Homo sapiens: one gene and its partners. The protein of the gene in region 1 purifies or fractionates together with the protein of each later gene. This does not show direct contact. Each region holds a gene or a part of one and is shown in the gene's direction. Other genes may lie near its edges. The genes, in order: DIS3L, THOP1, EXOSC1 and EIF4E2.

Region 1 (3,500 bases):
GGGACAAGGGCTTTCAGACATCCTCTTGGTTAATTCTTAATGCTGAGGTGATGGCAGCATCATTCATATTTACAGATAAGTCAATTAAGTCTGAAGAGATTAAGTAATTTGCCTGTAATTTAACAGTCAGGGCAGAGCCAAGATTTGAATCCAAGTCTGTTAAACTTGCAAGCTCACATAGTGACCACTTAACACCTTGCCTCTCTGTTCATCATCATGCTCTATTTCTCCTTTCCCCCTTTTCCCTTAGCCAGCCACAATATAGGACTGAATTATATGTTATTAGTTTTATTTTTAATATACCTCTATATTTCCTGGGGCTTTGAAATTATTATTTTGAGGCTGTATGCAGTGGCTCACACCTGTAACCCCAGCACTTTGGGAGGCCGAGGCAGGAGGATCACTGAAGGCCAGGAGTTCAAGACTAGCCTGGGCAACAAAGTGAGACCCTGTCTCTACAAAAAAATTATTTTGAGAATAAATAAATAGAATGCTTACTACCTCTTTAAAAAAGAAAAACTAATTTAGGTTTCTTTTACTTGTACACCAAGTCCATTATTTTACCTATATATAGAATGTTTAAGGTTAAGGATGTAAAGAATTCAATTCAACGAGTATTTGACCACCTATTATAGCCAAGCACTAACTTAACCTAGTATTAAAATCAGTACATGATTCATTTCTACTTAAGAAATGTATTTAAATTCTGACACTCTTGTTTTGTTTAAGCCGTAAAGCAAACTAGATTTCTGTAGTTGAAAAGAGGTGCTTCTGAAACGTGTCCAAAACAAATTTACTGGCAGATGAAGGTATTCAGACGGATGAGTGAAGGGTTCCCCTCAAAGTGTTGTCTTGTAAATTACTGTCTGGGACTAGCTAACGGTTTTTCTGTTCTTTGTCAGGTCCAATAAAACACTGGCTGATTCTCTGGATAATGCGAACGACCCCCACGATCCCATTGTGAACAGGCTACTGCGCTCCATGGCCACGCAGGCCATGTCGAATGCTCTGTACTTCTCCACCGGATCCTGTGCGGAGGAGGAGTTCCATCATTACGGTGAATCATACCATATTCCTATGTGTGGCTGTAACTTTGCGCTAGTTATTTTAAAATAGTTTTTGTTTATTTTGATCTTTTGCTTTCTTTTTGAAGGTCTTGCATTAGATAAATATACCCACTTTACTTCTCCAATAAGAAGATATTCAGATATTGTAGTACACCGCTTGTTAATGGCAGCCATTTCAAAAGATAAGAAAATGGAAATTAAGGGAAATCTGTTCAGCAACAAAGATCTTGAGGAATTATGCAGACATATCAACAACAGAAACCAAGTAAGAGGGAATTTCAAAATTCTCTTACCTGTCATCTCTTGCTAAGAAAATATCAGCTTTATTGTGTAGTACCGTGAAGTATCATATATTCTAGCAAATTAAATTCTAGAATTATTCTAACCAGTGCTTTCAGAACATTTGTAGATGTTCTCAGGTAACTTGTGGATTTGGGAGATTTGACGGTAGATTATCAGATTTTTTTTTTTCCGAAAGGTGGAAATGTAAAGATTCAAGCAACGCATAAAGATATGATGACAGAGGCCAGACGTGGTGGCTCACTTGAGGGCGGATCACTTGAGGTCAGGAATTTGAGACCAGCCTGGCCAATATGGTGAAACCCCATCTCTACAAAAAATACAAAAATTAGCCGGGTGTGATGGCACGCGCCTGTAGTCCCAGTTACTTGGGAGGCTGAGGCAGGAGAATCTCTTGAACCCAGGAGGTGGAGATTGCAGTGGGCCGAGATCACACCACTGCACTCTAGCCTGGGTGACAAAATTGAGACTGTGTCTCAAAAAAAAAAAAAGATATGAAGACAGAAACATCACCTGTTATCTTACCACCCAGAGCTAACAATTAATGATTCTAGACACTGCTAACATTTTTATTTATAAAAATATCGGCCAGATGCGGTGGCTTGCACCTGTATTCCCAGTACTTTGGGAGGCTGAGGCAGGTGGATCACGAGGTCAGGAGATCGAGACCATCCGGGCTAACACAGTGAAACCCCATCTCTACTAAAAATACAAAAAATTAGCATGGTGGCAGGCGCCTGTAGTCCCAGCTACTCAGGAGGCTGAGGCAGGAGAATGGTGTGAACCCGGGAGGCGGAGCTTGCAGTGAGCTGAGATTGCACCACTGCACTCTGGCCTGGGTGACAGAGCGAAACTCCGTCTAAAAAAAAAAAATCACACCGTGCCTGCTGTTTGAATCTGCTTTTTTCATGTAACCCAACTGTTATTGATAGCACACCATGTTATATCATTGTTTTGAAGCTGCTTTCTATTCTATTTCATATTACTAGTTGCTACAAGATTGCACAGCATAGAACTAGACTATTGGGTAACGCAGGAAATTGGAAACTACCTAAATGTTTAATGTAATTTTCTATATCCAATGGTATAGTTGTCTGCTGTGCAATGTTGTAGCACTAGCCATGTGGACTACCTAAATTTAATTAAAATTAGAAGTAGAAATTTGTCTCAGTAGAAATTTGGCCAGTGTCTCAGTCACACTGGCCACATTGTATAGCTCAGTGGCCACTTGTGGTTAGTGGCTACATATTAGGCAACACAGATAGAGAGCATTTCTATCATTGCAGAAAGTTCTGTTGGGCAGCACTGTTCTAAGCAATCAAATTTATAACCATCCTTATGGATACACTTATACAGACATTTCAGATGATTTCCTGGAAAAATTCCTAGAAATGGAATTGCTGAGCCAAAAGGTGTGCATGCACAAATGAAACTGATAGGTCAGGTGCAGTGGCTCACGACTGTAATCCTAGCACTTTTCGAGGTCGAGGCCGGTGGATCACCTGAGTTCAGGAGTTCCAGAGCAGCCTGGCCAACATGGTGAAACCCCGTTACTACTAAAAATACAAAAATTAGCCAGGCATGGTGGTGCATGCCTGTAATCCCAGCTAATCGGGCGGCTGAGGCAGGAGAATCACTTGAACCCGGGAGGCAGAGGTTGCAGGGAGCCAAGATCGCGCCATTGCACTCCAGCCTAGGCGATAGAGTGAGACTCCATCTCAAAAAGAAGACAAAGAAACTTTAATACATATTACTAAATTGTCTTCCTTATCAGTAGTGCTAATTTAGACTTCCACCAATAGGGTTTTCATTGGACAGGCTTGAAAAGAAAGAAAGGCTGGCCGGGCGCGGTGGCTCATGCCTGTAATCCCAGCACTTTGGGAGGCCGAGGCAGGCGGATCACGAGGTCAGGAGATCAAGACCATCCTGGCTAACACAGTGAAACCCCATTTCTACTAAAAATACAAAAAATTACCCGGGCGTGATGGCAGGCGCCTGTAGTCCCAGCTACTCCAGAGGCTGAGGCAGGAGAATGACGTGAACCCAGGAGGTAGAGCTTGCAGTGAGCCGAGATTGCACCACTGTACTCCAGCCTGGGTGACAGAGTGAGACTCCATATCTCAAAAAAAAAAA
Region 2 (4,579 bases), on another chromosome or scaffold:
CTCGGCCTCCCACAGTGCTGGGATGACAGGTGTGAGCCACTGTGCCCGGCCCATTTTTTGTATTTTTAGTAGGCACAGGGTTTTGCCATGTTGGTCAGGCTGTTCTCAAACTCCTGACCTCAGGTGATCCGCCCGCCTTGGCCTCCCAAAGTGCTGGGATCACAGGCCTGAGCCACCACGCCCGGCCACACATGTGCACTTTCATTTCCTTTCCTGGCCATCCTAGTGTGACCCAAACACCCCATCCCCACATGGCGTGAGCTGGCAGGGCCTGGCGGCATGGCTGCGTGGGCTCCTGCTCCCCCGGATGCTCCTCGCAGTATGCAGTGGGGCCTTTGCTGTTGATGTCACATGATCAGGAGAGACCCAGAGACCCTCCTGCTGCTGTTCATCCTCTTAGGCGAGGACCCCTGGGAATGTGCTGATGTGTCCCACAGTCTCAGGATCATGCAGCCCTAGTGCTTTGGTAAATCCAGATCAGGGTGACCCATGATAGCCGTGGATTGTTATTTCTTTTTATTTAAATACAGACAGGGTCTCACAACGTTGCCCACGCTTGTCTCGAACTCCTGGGCCCACGCAATCCTCCCACCTCCACTTTCCAGAGTTTCTGTTGAGACAATGAGAGGTTCCCATGCAGGTGCAGGAAAGAATCGAATGCCTTTGCCAACTTTGCCCAGGTCCCCAGTGATGACGTTTTGCAAAACTATGGTGTCATCTACACCCCGATACCGACCTGGAGACCACCAGCAATCTAATTCCCATTCAGCCATCGCACTGGTGAAGGAGCTCTGGACTGATGTCAGTGTGGGGCTCTTCCAAACAAAGCGAACGTTTGCACAGGTTTTATGTAGAGACAGGTCGTCATTTCTCTGAGATAAATGCCCAGGAGTGCAGTTGCCAAGTCACACGGGGGCCGGATGATCAGGTTTTTAAGAAACTGCCAAACTGCTCTTTGGAGCGGCTGCACTGGCCCACGTCCTACATGCTTTGATGTTTTTATTCCAGGAGAAAGTTCAGAAGGACTCACTGAGGCCCGAGGCTGCGCGGTACCTGGAGCGGCTAATCAAGCTGGGCCGGAGAAATGGGCTTCACCTCCCCAGAGAGACTCAGGAAGTGAGTGCTGGGTGTAGGGAGTGCTGGGCGTGGGCAATGGTCGATCCCGGGGAGTGCTGGGCACAGGGAGTGCTCAGTCCCAGGGAGTGGTGGGAGCAAGAAGCGCAGGGCAGGGGGAGTGCTGGGCTCGGGGAGTGCTCGGCTCAGGGAGTGCTTGGGGCATCAGGAGTGCTGGGTTCAGGGAGTGCTGCGTCCCGGGGAGTGCTGGACTCAGGGAGTGCTTGGGCACAGGGAGTGCTGGGTGCCGGGAGTGCTGGGTGTGAGGAGTGCTCGGTCCCAGGGAGCACTGGGCATGGGGAGTACTGAGCTCAGGGAGTGCTTGGGCTTGGGGAGTGCTGGGTGGGGGGAGTGCTCGGTCCCAGGGAGTACTGGGTGTGGGGAGTGCTCAGTCTGGGGAGTACTCGGCATGGGGAGTACTGGGCACGGGGAGTGCTCAGTCCTGGGGAGTGCTCAGTTGCGGGGAGTGCTGGGCTCAGGGAGTACTGGGTGCGGGGAGTGCTGGGCGTGGCCAGTGGAGCTTCTGTGGCCCCCTGCCCCTGCCTCCTCGGGAGCGTCCCCCCTTCAGGGCTGACCCCCGGCCTGATGTCCATCTTTCTTCTGCCTGAGGACCTGAACTCTGGCAAGGCAGGTCCACACAGACATGGGGCGCAGAGGCTCGGTAACGAGGGGAGCCCCTCCACCCACTGCCCGGTGTGCCTGATGTGGGCGTCTCAGGGGTGACATGAGTTAGTTGGTGCAGAGCTGGGAGCGCAGCGCTGAAGTCAAGCGTAGTGTGTTAGCAGAAGCCCAGTGTTCAGCGGCACCAACAGAGCAGTGGCGACCGCCACTGGAAAGATGCGTGTCACAGTTCCCAGGAACTGGCAGCTCGCCACATGGGAAGCATGGCTGGGTCAGGAGGTGTGCTCTGGGCAGGGCCTTCGCTGGGGTCCCTTGTGAAGGCATGGGTGTAGCGGGGAGTGGGCTCAGGGTTGGCCGGCTGGACCATCTCAGCCAGCCCTGGCATGGGGGCTGCCCCTCATCGGGTGCCTGGCCCTAGGGTAATGGGGGCCGGTGGATGGTGCCCCAGAGTGTAGGGGCTCGAGACTAGTTGATTTGCACGTGAAAGATGTTTGCAGGCGAGCTGTTGGCTGTCTCTGGGAGGGGCCATTTCTCGAGGGCCAGCAAGGCACCCAAATGTCAAAGCATCAGAATACAGGCCCCTGATTCACCATGGTGTGTGTTCAGTAGAAACCGTGCTTGGAATGCTGATCTTTCCGAGGCCGGCCACTTGGGCACTTGCTGTCCTGTGACGCTGGGCGCCAGCCACAGCTACCAGCTAGCCTGCAATGACGCAGGCAAACTGAAAACCGAAGTTACATGAGATACCCAACACCTCATATCCGATAGCCTTTGCCTTCGGCGATCTCACCAGAATGTGGGCTGCTGTGAGTTCCTGAGCACGCTTAAGACAGGCCAGGTTAAGCTGTGATGTTCGCTCCTATTAAATGCATTTGTGATTTATGATATTCACAACTCACGATGGGATTATTGGGACATACCCCTGTCCTAAGTCAGGGAGCATCTGTACAGGAAAGAAAGCACACAGTTCAATCAGGTCCCAGGCTGCAGCCATAGCCCCATGGCTGTCCCTGTTCCGGTTCCATAAAGCCACCGCTGTCCTGGTTAGGGGGCGTCTCCACCTTATGGCTGAGGCAACCAAGACTCAGAGAGGCCAGGTGGGTTTGTCAGTGAAACCAGCACTGACGAAAGCGGAGTCAGGGTCCGTCTCAGTACTCGGGGACTGGGGGTCCTCAGCTCAGCCGCAGCGGACAAGAGCCAGTTATTTTTATTTTTATTTATGCATTTATTTATTTATTTAGACAGGGAGTCACACTCTGTCTCCCAGGCTGGAGTGCAACGGTGTGATCTCAGCTCGCTGCAACCTCTGCCTCCTATGTTCAAGCGATTCTCCTGCCTCAGCCTCTGGAGTAGCTGGGATTACGGGCACCCGCCAACACAGCTGGCTAATTTTTTTTTATTTTTGATAGAGACAGGGTTTTACCACATTGGCCAGGCTGGTCTCAAACTCCTAACCTCAAGTGATTCACCCGCCTTGGCCTCCCAAACTGCTGGGATTACGGGTGTGAGCCACTGTACCACAGTTATTTTTAAAACCCCTTCGGCTTGTTGCATGCCCAGCATGTGTGGCCATGTGCATGGTAGAAGCCACAAACTCTCCCACAAGGGCCAGCAAGCAAGGAGGGAGCAGAGGCAGCCCCGCCTGGAGGACAGAAGCGCGGAAAAGGTGCGAGGTCCGGATGCTGGCGAGCAGAGTTCCAGCGCGTCCCCGCGGCCCTTAGGGCCAGCGCTGTGTGCTCATTGAGTCTCCAGAGCCTTCCCTGGCATGGCTGGGTTTGTTATGTGAGATGGCAAGAGGGGGAGACATTGGGAATTGCCCAGCATGGGGCCTGTTCCCAGGAGAGGCCCAGCAAACCCTCAGCTGGTTCTGAACCAGGGCCTTCCTGACAAGATACAGGCTCCCTGCAAAGTCCTGGGCACAGTTTCCCCCTGCTGCCGCCCTCTGTCCTGCGGATGAGCATTTCTGCTCTGGCCCCATGGAGCTGGGCTCCAGACCCGCCTGGCGGAGCTTCCAGCAGGAGAATCTGAGTCAAAGTACAGCCCTGCTGCCAGCCTGTCATGTGTCATGTGGCCTCAAGCCAGGTCCTTGTCACATAGTGGTCACCTCCCAGCCTTCAAGGCCACCAGAGGGACCACTCAAGATTCAGTTCCTTTGTTGATATCCCATATCACCAGGGTCGAGTTTTAGCTGTTTCTAAAACCAGCTTTACCAGATAAGGGGTAAAATGTTCAAAAGCTGCCAGACACGGTGACTCATGCCTGTAATCCCAGCACTTTGGGAGGCTGAGGTGGGAGGATTGCTTGAGCCCAGGAGTTCGAAACCAGCCTGAGCAACATGGTGAAACCCCGTCTGTACCAAACATACAAAAATTAGCTGGGTGTAGTGGCGTGTACCTGTAGTCCTAGCTACTCAGGAGGCTAAGGCAGGAGGATCAATTGAGTTGGGAGGTTGAGGCTGCAGTGAGTCGAGATCATGCCACTGCATTCCAGCCTGGGCAACAGAGCGAGTCCCTGTCTCAGAAGAATGTTGAAAAGCTTAGGCTGCAGGCTCTGAAGGTGATTCCTTAATGGATAGGAGGGTCTGGAGCACTCTTGGCCAGGGCCACACCTGACAGACCGGAGCACATCCCTGAGGTTGCCCGAGGTCACCCAGCTTTGGATGCCGCAGCTGGTGTTGAAATCCACACTGCGCAGCCTCGTGGCCTCCGTGTCTGTCTGTCCTCCGCCTCCCGTCTCACTCTTTCCTCCTCGGTTGCCTCTTCTTTCGGCCTGGTTCTTGGGGAAATCCCTCAGCCCTCGGCGAGAGGGTTCCCAGGCGTTGCGTCTCCCCGCGGAGCCCGCCCCG
Region 3 (4,579 bases), on another chromosome or scaffold:
GTGGCTCACACCTGTAATCCCAGCACTTTGGGAAGCCAAGGCAGGTGGATCACCTGAGGTCAGGAGTTCGAGACCAGCCTGGCCAACATGGTGAAACCCCATCTCTACTAAAAATACAAAAAATTACCCGAGCATGGTGACAGGCTTCTGTAATCCCAGCTACTCGGGAGGCTGAGGCAGGAGAATCACTTGAACCCAGGAGGTGGAGGTTGCAGTGAACCAAGATGGCACCCTTGCACTCCATCCTAGGCAACAAGAGTGAAACTCCATTTCAAAAAAAAACAAAAAAAGTAAAATTGTCAATGATTATAGGCAATATAGTTGTATACCAAGAAATTCTGAGAGAATCACCAAAAAACTTATTAGAAGTTTAGAGATTTACTACAAAAAAAAGTAGCTGGGCATGGTGGCGGGTGCCTGTAGTCCCAGCTACTCGGGAGGCTGAGGCAGGAGAATGGCGTGAACCCGGGAAGTGGACCTTGCAGTGAGCCGAGATCGTGCCACTGCACTCCAGTCTAGGCGACAGAGCAAGACTCCGTCTCCAACAACAAAAAAAGAAGTTTAGAGATGTATGTCTTCTAGCAGCATTCTGTAGCCTCCTGGTCCTCCTATTTCCTAAAATTTCTAAGGCCTTCTGCTCTGGGCTATAAATGAATCCATACTCCAACTCTCACCTTTATACCAAGACATTCCTATATTACTCTCAAGCCACAAATGCCTTGACCCAAGGGTTAGTCAGGACATTTCAGTTTTTTGTTGTTCCCTCTGTAGCTTCCAGTGGTGTCTGTAGTGAGAGAAACAGAGTCCCAGTTACTGCCAGATGTGGGAGCTATTGTAACCTGTAAGGTAAGTTGGTCCTGACCTCCATGCTTAGAATGCCCATTCAATACTGAAATCATGACCATACCAGAACTGCAGTGTCCAGTATGATAGCCACAAGCTACATAAATTTATTTCTGGCAGGGCACAGTGGCTCACACTGGTAATTCTAGCACTTTAAGAGGCCGAGGCAGGAGGATTGCTTCAGCCCAGAGTTCAAGACCAGCCTGGGAAACATAGTGAAACCTCATCTCTACAAAAAGAATCAAAAATTGCCGGGCATGGTGGCTCATGCTTGTAATCCCAGCACTTTGGGAGGCCGAGGTGGGCAGATCACCTGTGGTCAGGAGTTCAAGACCAGCCTGGCCAATCATGGCCAACATGGTGAAACCCTGTCTCTACCAAAAATACAAAAATTAGCTTAGCGTGGTGGTGCATGCCTGTAATCCCAGCTACTCGGGAGGCTGAGGCAGGAGAAGTGCTTGAACCCAGGAGGTGGAGGTTGCAGTGAGCCTGCGTCACAGCAGTCCAGCCTGGGCAACAGAGTGAGACTCCGTCTCAAAAAAAAAGAAGAAGAAGAATAAAAAATTAGCCAGGCATGGTAGCACATGCTTGTGGTCCCAACTACTTGGGAGGCTGAAGCAGGAAGATCGCTTGGGCCCAGGGGGTTGAGGCTGCAGTGAGCCATGATCACTCCAGCTTGGGTAACAGGGCAAGACTCTGTCTCTCAAGAAAAAAATAAAATTGATTTCCTTAGTCACATTAGCCACATTTCAAGTACTCAATAGCCACTTGTGGCTAGTGGTTGCTATACTGGTCAGCACATGACTTTTCTGTCATCACAGAAAGTTTTACTGGACTGTGCAGGCTTACAGATTTCTAGGATAATAATCAAGGCAGCCAAGTTCAGGCATGCATAGTTCCTTCACTGAGCTGATTCCCTGAATACATAGTTCTACCTGTGTCTGGGAAACAGGGATGCCAGAGGATGATTAGGAGGCCTATTTTTGAACATCTGAAGCTGAGTTCTTTTTCTGCAGAGAAGCAAAAGACTTTATTTTTTGCCATTCCTGTTTTTTTTTTTTTGAGACAGGGCCTTGCTCTGTCACCCAGGCTGGAGTGCAGTGGCACGATCTCGGCTCACTGCAGCCTCTGGCCTCTTGGGTTCAAGCAATTCTACTGCCTCTGCCTCCCGAGTAGCTGGGATTATAGGCATGTGCTGCCACGCCTGGCTAATTTTTGTATTTTTAGTACAGGTGGGGTTTTACCATGTTGGCCAGGCTGGTCCTGAACTCCTGACCTCAAGTGATGCGCCCACCTCAGCCTCCCAAAGTGCTGGGATTACAGGCATGAGCCACTGTGTCCAGCCTCTTTTTTTTTTTTTTTTTTAATTGTTAGCCATCTATACTTTAAAAAGTCTATACCTCTCTGAAGGGCAAGTTGTGAAAAGATTTAAAAAAAAAAAAAAAAACCCAGCCGGATGCAGTGGCTTACACCTGTAATCCCAGCACTTTGGGAGGCTGAAGCAGGCGAATCACCTGAGATCAGGAGTTCGAGACCAGCCTGACCAACATGGAGAAACCCTGTCTCTACTAGAAATACAAAATTAGCTGGGCATGGTGGTGCATGCCTGTAATCCCAGCTATTCAGGAGGCTAAGGCAGGAGAATTATTTGAACCCAGGAGGCGGAGGTTGCGGTGAGCCAAGATCGCGCCATTGCACTCCAGCCTGGGCAACAAGAGTGAAACTCCGTCTCAAAAAAAAAAAAAAAAAAAAACCCATACCACCTTTGTTTCCCATAGTAACTCTACCAGGTGGCCAGAGTGGCTCTTATTCCTCTTTACATGTGTCACTTACGCAGAGAGAAGTAGGAGTTAATTTGTCTTAAATTCTCTACTTAGTAGGGTTGCTTGCACTGAAGCCCTAGTAATCCCCAGTTTATTGCTGCCTCCTTGAGCTGACAACTGCTTATACTCTGATGCTGATCTTTTCTCTATTCCGCAGGTCTCTAGCATCAATTCACGCTTTGCCAAAGTACACATCCTGTATGTGGGGTCCATGCCTCTTAAGAACTCTTTTCGAGGAACTATCCGGTAAGAAGTATCCTTTTCACATATACCTTAGCAACTGGAATAAGATTAGGATAGACTAGGACACCAGAATTTTGAGCAACAGTTACAATTCCTATTTTTCTTTTGCCCGTTTTTCTTTCTTCTTTGTGCTTTGATTCTCCCCTAGTAGTATCCAAAAAATACATGGATGATCTAGGACAAAAGGAAAATATTAACGAGAGGGTTTAAAAGTAAAGCAAAGGCTGGGCGCGGTGGCTCACGCCTGTTATCCTAGCACTTTGAGAAGCTGAGGCGGGTGGATCTCTTGAGATCAGGAGTTTGAGACCAGCCTAGCCAACATGGTGAAACCCCATCTCTGTAAAAAATACAAAAATTAGCCAGGCACAGTGGCTCACACCTGTAATCCTATCACTTTGGGAGGCTGAGGTGGGTGGATCACAAAGTCAGGGGTTTGAGACCAGCCTGGCCAGTGTGGTGAAACCCTGTCTCTACTAAAAATACAAAAACTAGCCGGACATGTTGGCGTGTGCCTGTAATCCCAGCTGCTCAGGAGGCTGAAGCCAAAGAATCGCTTGAACCCAGGAGGCAGAGGTTGCAGTGAGCCAAGATTGCGCCATTGCACTCCAGCCTGGGGGACAGAGCGAGACTCTGTCTTTAAAAAAAAAAAAAAAAAAAATTAGCTGGGCATGGTGGTGCGTGCCTGTACTCCCAGCTACTTGTGGAGCTGAAGCAGGAAGATCACTTGAGCCTAGGAGGCAGAGGTTGCAGTGAGCTGAGATTGCACCACTGCACTCTAGCCTGGGCAACAGAGTGAGACCCTGTCTCAAAAAACAAATAAATAAATAAAAGGTAAAGCAAAAAGAATTGAGTGAAGCTGAAGTTTAGCAGTGTCAGGATGACTCAAACCAAAGTAGAAGGCAGGCTGGGCGTGGTGGCTCATGCCTGTAATCCCAGCACTTTGGGAGGCCGAGGCGGGCGGATCACCTGAGGTCGGGAGTTCGAGACCAGCCTGACCAACATGGAGAAACACCGTCTCTACTAAAAATACAAAATTAGCCAGGCGTGGTGGCACATGCCTATAATCCCAGCTACTAGGGAGGCTGAGGCAGGAGAATCACTTGAACCTGGGAGGCGGAGCTTGCGGTGAGCCAAGATCGTGCCATTGTACTCCAGCCTGGGCAACAAGAGTGAAACTCCGTCTCAAAAAAAAAAAAAAAAAAAGTAGAAGGCATTTTAGGAAGCACTTTAAAATTTAATATAGATTGAACTCAGAGGTTATAAAACATTGAAAAGATTTGTGGGTGAGATGGTGATTTCGTGTGGCTTCCTTGAGAAAGGACAAACATTTCTTGCCAGGCAGATAATCTAACTTTTGAGGCCCTTTCCAGCCTCAGGATTTGATGTGGTTCTGTAGTGCAGCAGTCCCCAACCTTTTTGGCACCAGGGACCAGTTTCTTGGAAGACAGTTTTTCCACAGACCATGGAGGGGGTGGTTGCAGAATGATTCAAGTGCATTACATTTATGGTGCACTTTATTTCTGTTATTATTACACTGTAATATATAATGAAATAATTATACAGCTCACCATAATATAGAATCAGCGGGAGCCCTGAGTTTGTTTCCCTGCAATTCGATGGTCCCATCTGGGGGTGATGGGAGACAGTGACAGATCATCAGGCATTAGATT
Region 4 (4,579 bases), on another chromosome or scaffold:
GATTCTATCACTTACGCTTAGTAACTAAACAGGTCTAAGAGGTATTTACATGTGGTTGATTCTATCACTTATGCTTACTAACTAAACAGGTCTAAGAGGTATTTCATTCAGCAAATGCTATATTTGCCAGTTAAACAATCTTTCATCGGTAAGTGATTTGGTTCTAAAAAATGCATTCAGGCTGAGGCTGTGTGACACTTACATACCTCAAGGCTAAAGAGTTTCCATTGTGCAAAAACCTGGTCCTCTTACTGCATGTGATGACTACCCTGCAGCTTGAGTGGGAGAGTGCGTATTAACATGGTTTCACCAACTAAAGCTCCTGGCTGAGGCTTGCATTTCTCACCAAAGATTTTATTCTTGAATTGCGAATGTTACATTTTTTATTTTGTCAAACTAGATGGTATGTTTTTCCTCTAATATGTCTTCCCTCACAACACCACACATGAAAATGAGTCCTCTGAAAAGGACAGCCTGTAGTATAGTGTCTTCCATGCTTATGTTCTTAACTAAATCTCAACCTTGGGATGCATTCAAAGAAAAGTAAAAGACACATGTTTTTTACTCTGGGGTCTTCTCTCTGCAGGTGGAGCAGTTCTGGAGGTTTTATAGCCACATGGTACGTCCTGGGGACCTGACAGGCCACAGTGACTTCCATCTCTTCAAAGAAGGAATTAAACCCATGTGGGAGGTAAGGACTAATGGCTTCTGACTGCTTTTTTGAGCAAGTTTGGGTTTTTTTGTTTTGTCTCTTAGCCCTGCCAAGGTTAAAAGTATTTTATTTTATTTTATTTTATTTTATTTTATTTGAGACGGAGTGTCGCTCTGTCACCCAGGCTGAGCGCAGTGGCGCGATCTCGGCTCACTGCAAGCTCCGCCTCCCAGGTTCACGCCATTCTCTTGCCTCAGCCTCCCTAGTAGCTGGGACTACAGGCGCCCACCACCGCGCCCGGCTAATTTTTTGTGTTTTTTAGTAGAGACGGAGTTTCACCGTGTTAGCCAGGATGGTCTCGATCTCCTGACCTCGTGATCCGCCCGCCTTGGACTCCCAAAATGCTGGGATTACAGGCGTGAGCCACCGTGCCCAGCTGGTTAAAAGTGTTTTAAAGTCTCTCAAAACTGCATCACTCTCCAGTATATCCTTGGAACCCGAGCCTCTAGAGAAATGCACTGATGCCATTTTTTGTCTGTGTGGGTTGGTGCTGGGTGTTTTTTAAAGACTGTTTTATGACTAAAATGGTATTAGAACATTAAAGGATTTTTGTTTTCAGTTACCTTTATCCTTATAGAACTTGTTTGTGCGTGTGTGTAATATTTTTACATAGTACACATATGATTAAAGTGGGTAAGAAAATAAGTTTAAAGGCAGGAACTGGAGACCTAGAACTTTGCAGAGCCAGTATTCGGCTGCGCCCTGGTGTAGTGCATCTTCTATTCTGGTGCCATGGCATTTTTCGAGAAGACAAATGTGGTCACATCCACGCCACCCATCTTATACAGCTCCTCATTGCTCACATGATCTTGCACCTCATTTACCTTTCAAGCCTCATCTCCCATCATCTCTAAATCTTCCCTTCCCTGCAGGTGGACCCTCCTGTCAGTTTATGCACAGACATGTTCTTCCCAGTGCCCGCAGTGCCCTTCAGCTGCTTTTCCTGACTCACTCCCGTTGACCTTAAGACCCACTTCTTGGCAGGGCATGGTGGCCCATGCCTGTAATCCCAGCACTTTGGGAGGTCGAGGTGGACAGATCACCTGAGGTCAGGAGTTTGAGGCCAGCCTGGCCAACATGGTGAAACCCCGTCTCTACTAAAAATACAAAAATTAGCCAGGTGTGGTGGCACGCGCCTGTAATCCCAGCTACTCGGGAGGCTGAGACAGGAGACTCACTTGAACCCAGGAGGTGGAGGTTGCACTGAGCCAAGATTGTGCCACTGCACTCCAGCCTGGGTGACAGAGCGAGACTCCATCTCAAAAAAAGAAAAGAAAAAAAAAGACCCACTTCTTGACTGTTTCCAACTATCTTGTTCTTCCTTAACATAGTGTGCATATCTGTTAACAGCAGCACTTATAATTATAGTATCATTGCTGTAATTAATATCCTTGGCTGTCTCTTCTACTGGACTGGATCTGAGTAGAGATTGGGGCTTCAGCCAGGCGCAGTGGCTCACTCCTGTAATCCCAGCACTTTGGGAATCCGAGGCAGACAGATCACGAGGTCAAGGGTTCGAGACCAGCCTGGCCAATATGGTGAAACCCTGTCTCTACTAAAAATACAATAATTAGCCGGGTGTGGTGGCATGTGCCTGTAGTCCCAGCTACCCAGGAGGCAGAGACAGGAGAATCGCTTGAACCCAAGAGGCAGAAGTGGCAGTGAGCCGATATCGCACCACTGCACTCCAGACTGGGTGACAGCGGGAGACTCCATCGCAAAAAAGAAAAAAAAAAAAACTAGATTGGGGCTTCATGTCTGTGTACTTGGTATGTAGTGACAGTCAGTACTTTTTTTTGTCGTCGTTGTTGTTTTGTTTTGTTTTGTTTTTTGAGACGGAGTCTTGCTGTGTTTCCCAGGCGGGAGTGCAGTGGCACGATCTCGGCTCCCTGCAAGCTCTGCCTCCCGAGTTCACGCCATTCTCCCGCCTCAGCCTCCCGAGTAGCTGGGACTACAGGCGCCCACCACCATGCCCGGCTAATTTTGTTTTTGTATTTTTAGTAGAGACGCGGTTTCACCGTGTCAGCCAGGATGGTCTCGATCTCCTCACCTCGTGATTCGCCCACCTCAGCCTTCCAAAGTGTTGGGATTACGGGCGTGAGCCACTGCGCCCAGCAGACATTCAGTACTTTTAGCAAGTAAACGGATGATCTGTGCTTGAAATATGACATCATTTCGTTTTGATTCCTAAAGTATTTCCAGTAAAGGGGATTATTTTTAAAAGGTCTGTTTAGCCATTTTAATAAATGGCTTATGCCAAGGATCCCAGCCTTGTTTTTCTTTTTTTCCCCATTTCTTCTCTCCCTAGTCCTACCATCAGTTTTTCTATAGAGTTGAATAATTGGAAAGTGATATGACTTCTTAGTGTTTAAGAGATTCTTGGCTTTTTACTGCCTTCATACAAAAAAAGGCTGTGAAACCATATTTTAACTTCAGTGCTTTCTGTCTTTTTACAGGATGATGCAAATAAAAATGGTGGCAAGTGGATTATTCGGCTGCGGAAGGGCTTGGCCTCCCGTTGCTGGGAGAATCTCATTTTGGCCATGCTGGGGGAACAGTTCATGGTTGGGGAGGAGATCTGTGGGGCTGTGGTGTCTGTCCGCTTTCAGGTAAGCCACCCATGAGCCAGGCTGGTTTCTTGTGTTGCCTTTGCTCTCCTCGCTGCCCCTGATTTGCTTTGATGATTCCTTCTGTTCCTCTGGTAGGAAGACATTATTTCAATATGGAATAAGACTGCCAGTGACCAAGCAACCACAGCCCGAATCCGGGACACACTTCGGCGAGTGCTTAACCTACCTCCCAACACCATTATGGAATACAAAACTCACACCGACAGCATCAAGTACGTGTTGGGGGGTTATGGGAGGACGTGTCCCTAAGCTTAGTATAAGTAGATCTGTAGTTGGGCCCAGAGGAATATGGCCGGACAGGAGACTTACTTGTGGAGAAGGGACAGACCAGGCCTTCCCTCTAGGGCTTCTGGCTACTTGCTGCAGTTCTTTGTCAGCGAGGCTCCCTGCCACCTATACTACCAGGTGCTTTGTAGCAGAGAGAGCCCATCTGCAGAAACCCAGTTGTACTACCTGGGCTTGCTTAATTTCTACAGGCTGTCTTGTCTTTCATATGCTAACCACTATCTTAAAATGAAAGACAAGTGCTTTTCTTTTTCTTGCTGTTTTTTAAGATAATTTCACCCTGCCCACCCTCACCCCACTTCTGCATGTCTTTTTAACTTGTTAGCTTCAGTCTATTTTCTTTGTCCTGGGATACTGACTACTTATCAGGAATGACTCCATTTCCTTGTGTATAGAGCTGACTCTTAGAAGAAGGGGGATAGTGTGTGTGTGAGAGAGCAGAATCAAAGGGAAGCATGAAGGCCACAGGGAAAATAAGCTTGGCAATCTCCCTAGGACTCAGGGAAATAGAGCTCTCTGTCCACAGTGAGAATCACTGTTAGGCTTGCTCCTCAGTGATTGAGTGTCAGAAGTAAGCTCAGGCTATTGTGAAAAAGTGTGGGGAGTGGCTGTCAGATTGTCTCAAAGCTGGAGGGAGAGCTAGCCAGCTAAGAGTTAGGACTCTTAGGTTTAGTTCTCTCATATGGCCCCATACCAATATGTGCCTTTGACAAGTGTCTTTGCAACTTTGCTTCAGTTTCTCCATCTGTAAAGTGGGAGACAGTACTTTATCTAACAAGGCTATTGTGAGGCTGATTTAATCTTTAACTGAGGGTCTTCAGATGGAGAATGCTTTTACGGGGCCAAGTAGTAGTATTGCTATCATCATCATCATCATTAGTAAGAATATCATCATGTTGTTATTATTGAAGGCTAGTAGTGAGCCCAGCAATTATGTTCAGCAGACAGACCA

What was found.
Region 2: the proteins of DIS3L (region 1) and THOP1 purify together in Homo sapiens (affinity purification with mass spectrometry, with the first as the bait; one large-scale study listed by BioGRID). This does not show direct contact.
Region 3: the proteins of DIS3L (region 1) and EXOSC1 purify together in Homo sapiens (affinity purification with mass spectrometry; 5 studies listed by BioGRID and IntAct, with this or other methods). This does not show direct contact.
Region 4: the proteins of DIS3L (region 1) and EIF4E2 purify together in Homo sapiens (affinity purification with mass spectrometry; 3 studies listed by BioGRID and IntAct, with this or other methods). This does not show direct contact.

What each region holds. Positions count from the first base shown.
Region 1 is NC_000015.10:66,328,068-66,331,567, forward strand, and holds part of DIS3L (DIS3-like exonuclease 1), read left to right. Parts: intron 1-902; coding exon 903-1,057; intron 1,058-1,153; coding exon 1,154-1,332; intron 1,333-1,545; coding exon of another isoform or gene 1,546-1,557; exon of another isoform or gene 1,558-3,500. UniProt on the Homo sapiens protein: Catalytic component of the RNA exosome complex which has 3'->5' exoribonuclease activity and participates in a multitude of cellular RNA processing and degradation events.
Region 2 is NC_000019.10:2,795,073-2,799,651, forward strand, and holds part of THOP1 (thimet oligopeptidase), read left to right. Parts: intron 1-1,008; coding exon 1,009-1,116; intron 1,117-4,579. UniProt on the Homo sapiens protein: Involved in the metabolism of neuropeptides under 20 amino acid residues long. Involved in cytoplasmic peptide degradation. Able to degrade the amyloid-beta precursor protein and generate amyloidogenic fragments.
Region 3 is NC_000010.11:97,439,504-97,444,082, reverse strand, and holds part of EXOSC1 (exosome complex component CSL4), read left to right. Parts: intron 1-771; coding exon 772-846; intron 847-2,823; coding exon 2,824-2,912; intron 2,913-4,579. UniProt on the Homo sapiens protein: Non-catalytic component of the RNA exosome complex which has 3'->5' exoribonuclease activity and participates in a multitude of cellular RNA processing and degradation events.
Region 4 is NC_000002.12:232,563,661-232,568,239, forward strand, and holds part of EIF4E2 (eukaryotic translation initiation factor 4E type 2), read left to right. Parts: intron 1-586; coding exon 587-691; intron 692-3,168; coding exon 3,169-3,321; intron 3,322-3,417; coding exon 3,418-3,554; intron 3,555-4,579. UniProt on the Homo sapiens protein: Recognizes and binds the 7-methylguanosine-containing mRNA cap during an early step in the initiation. Acts as a repressor of translation initiation.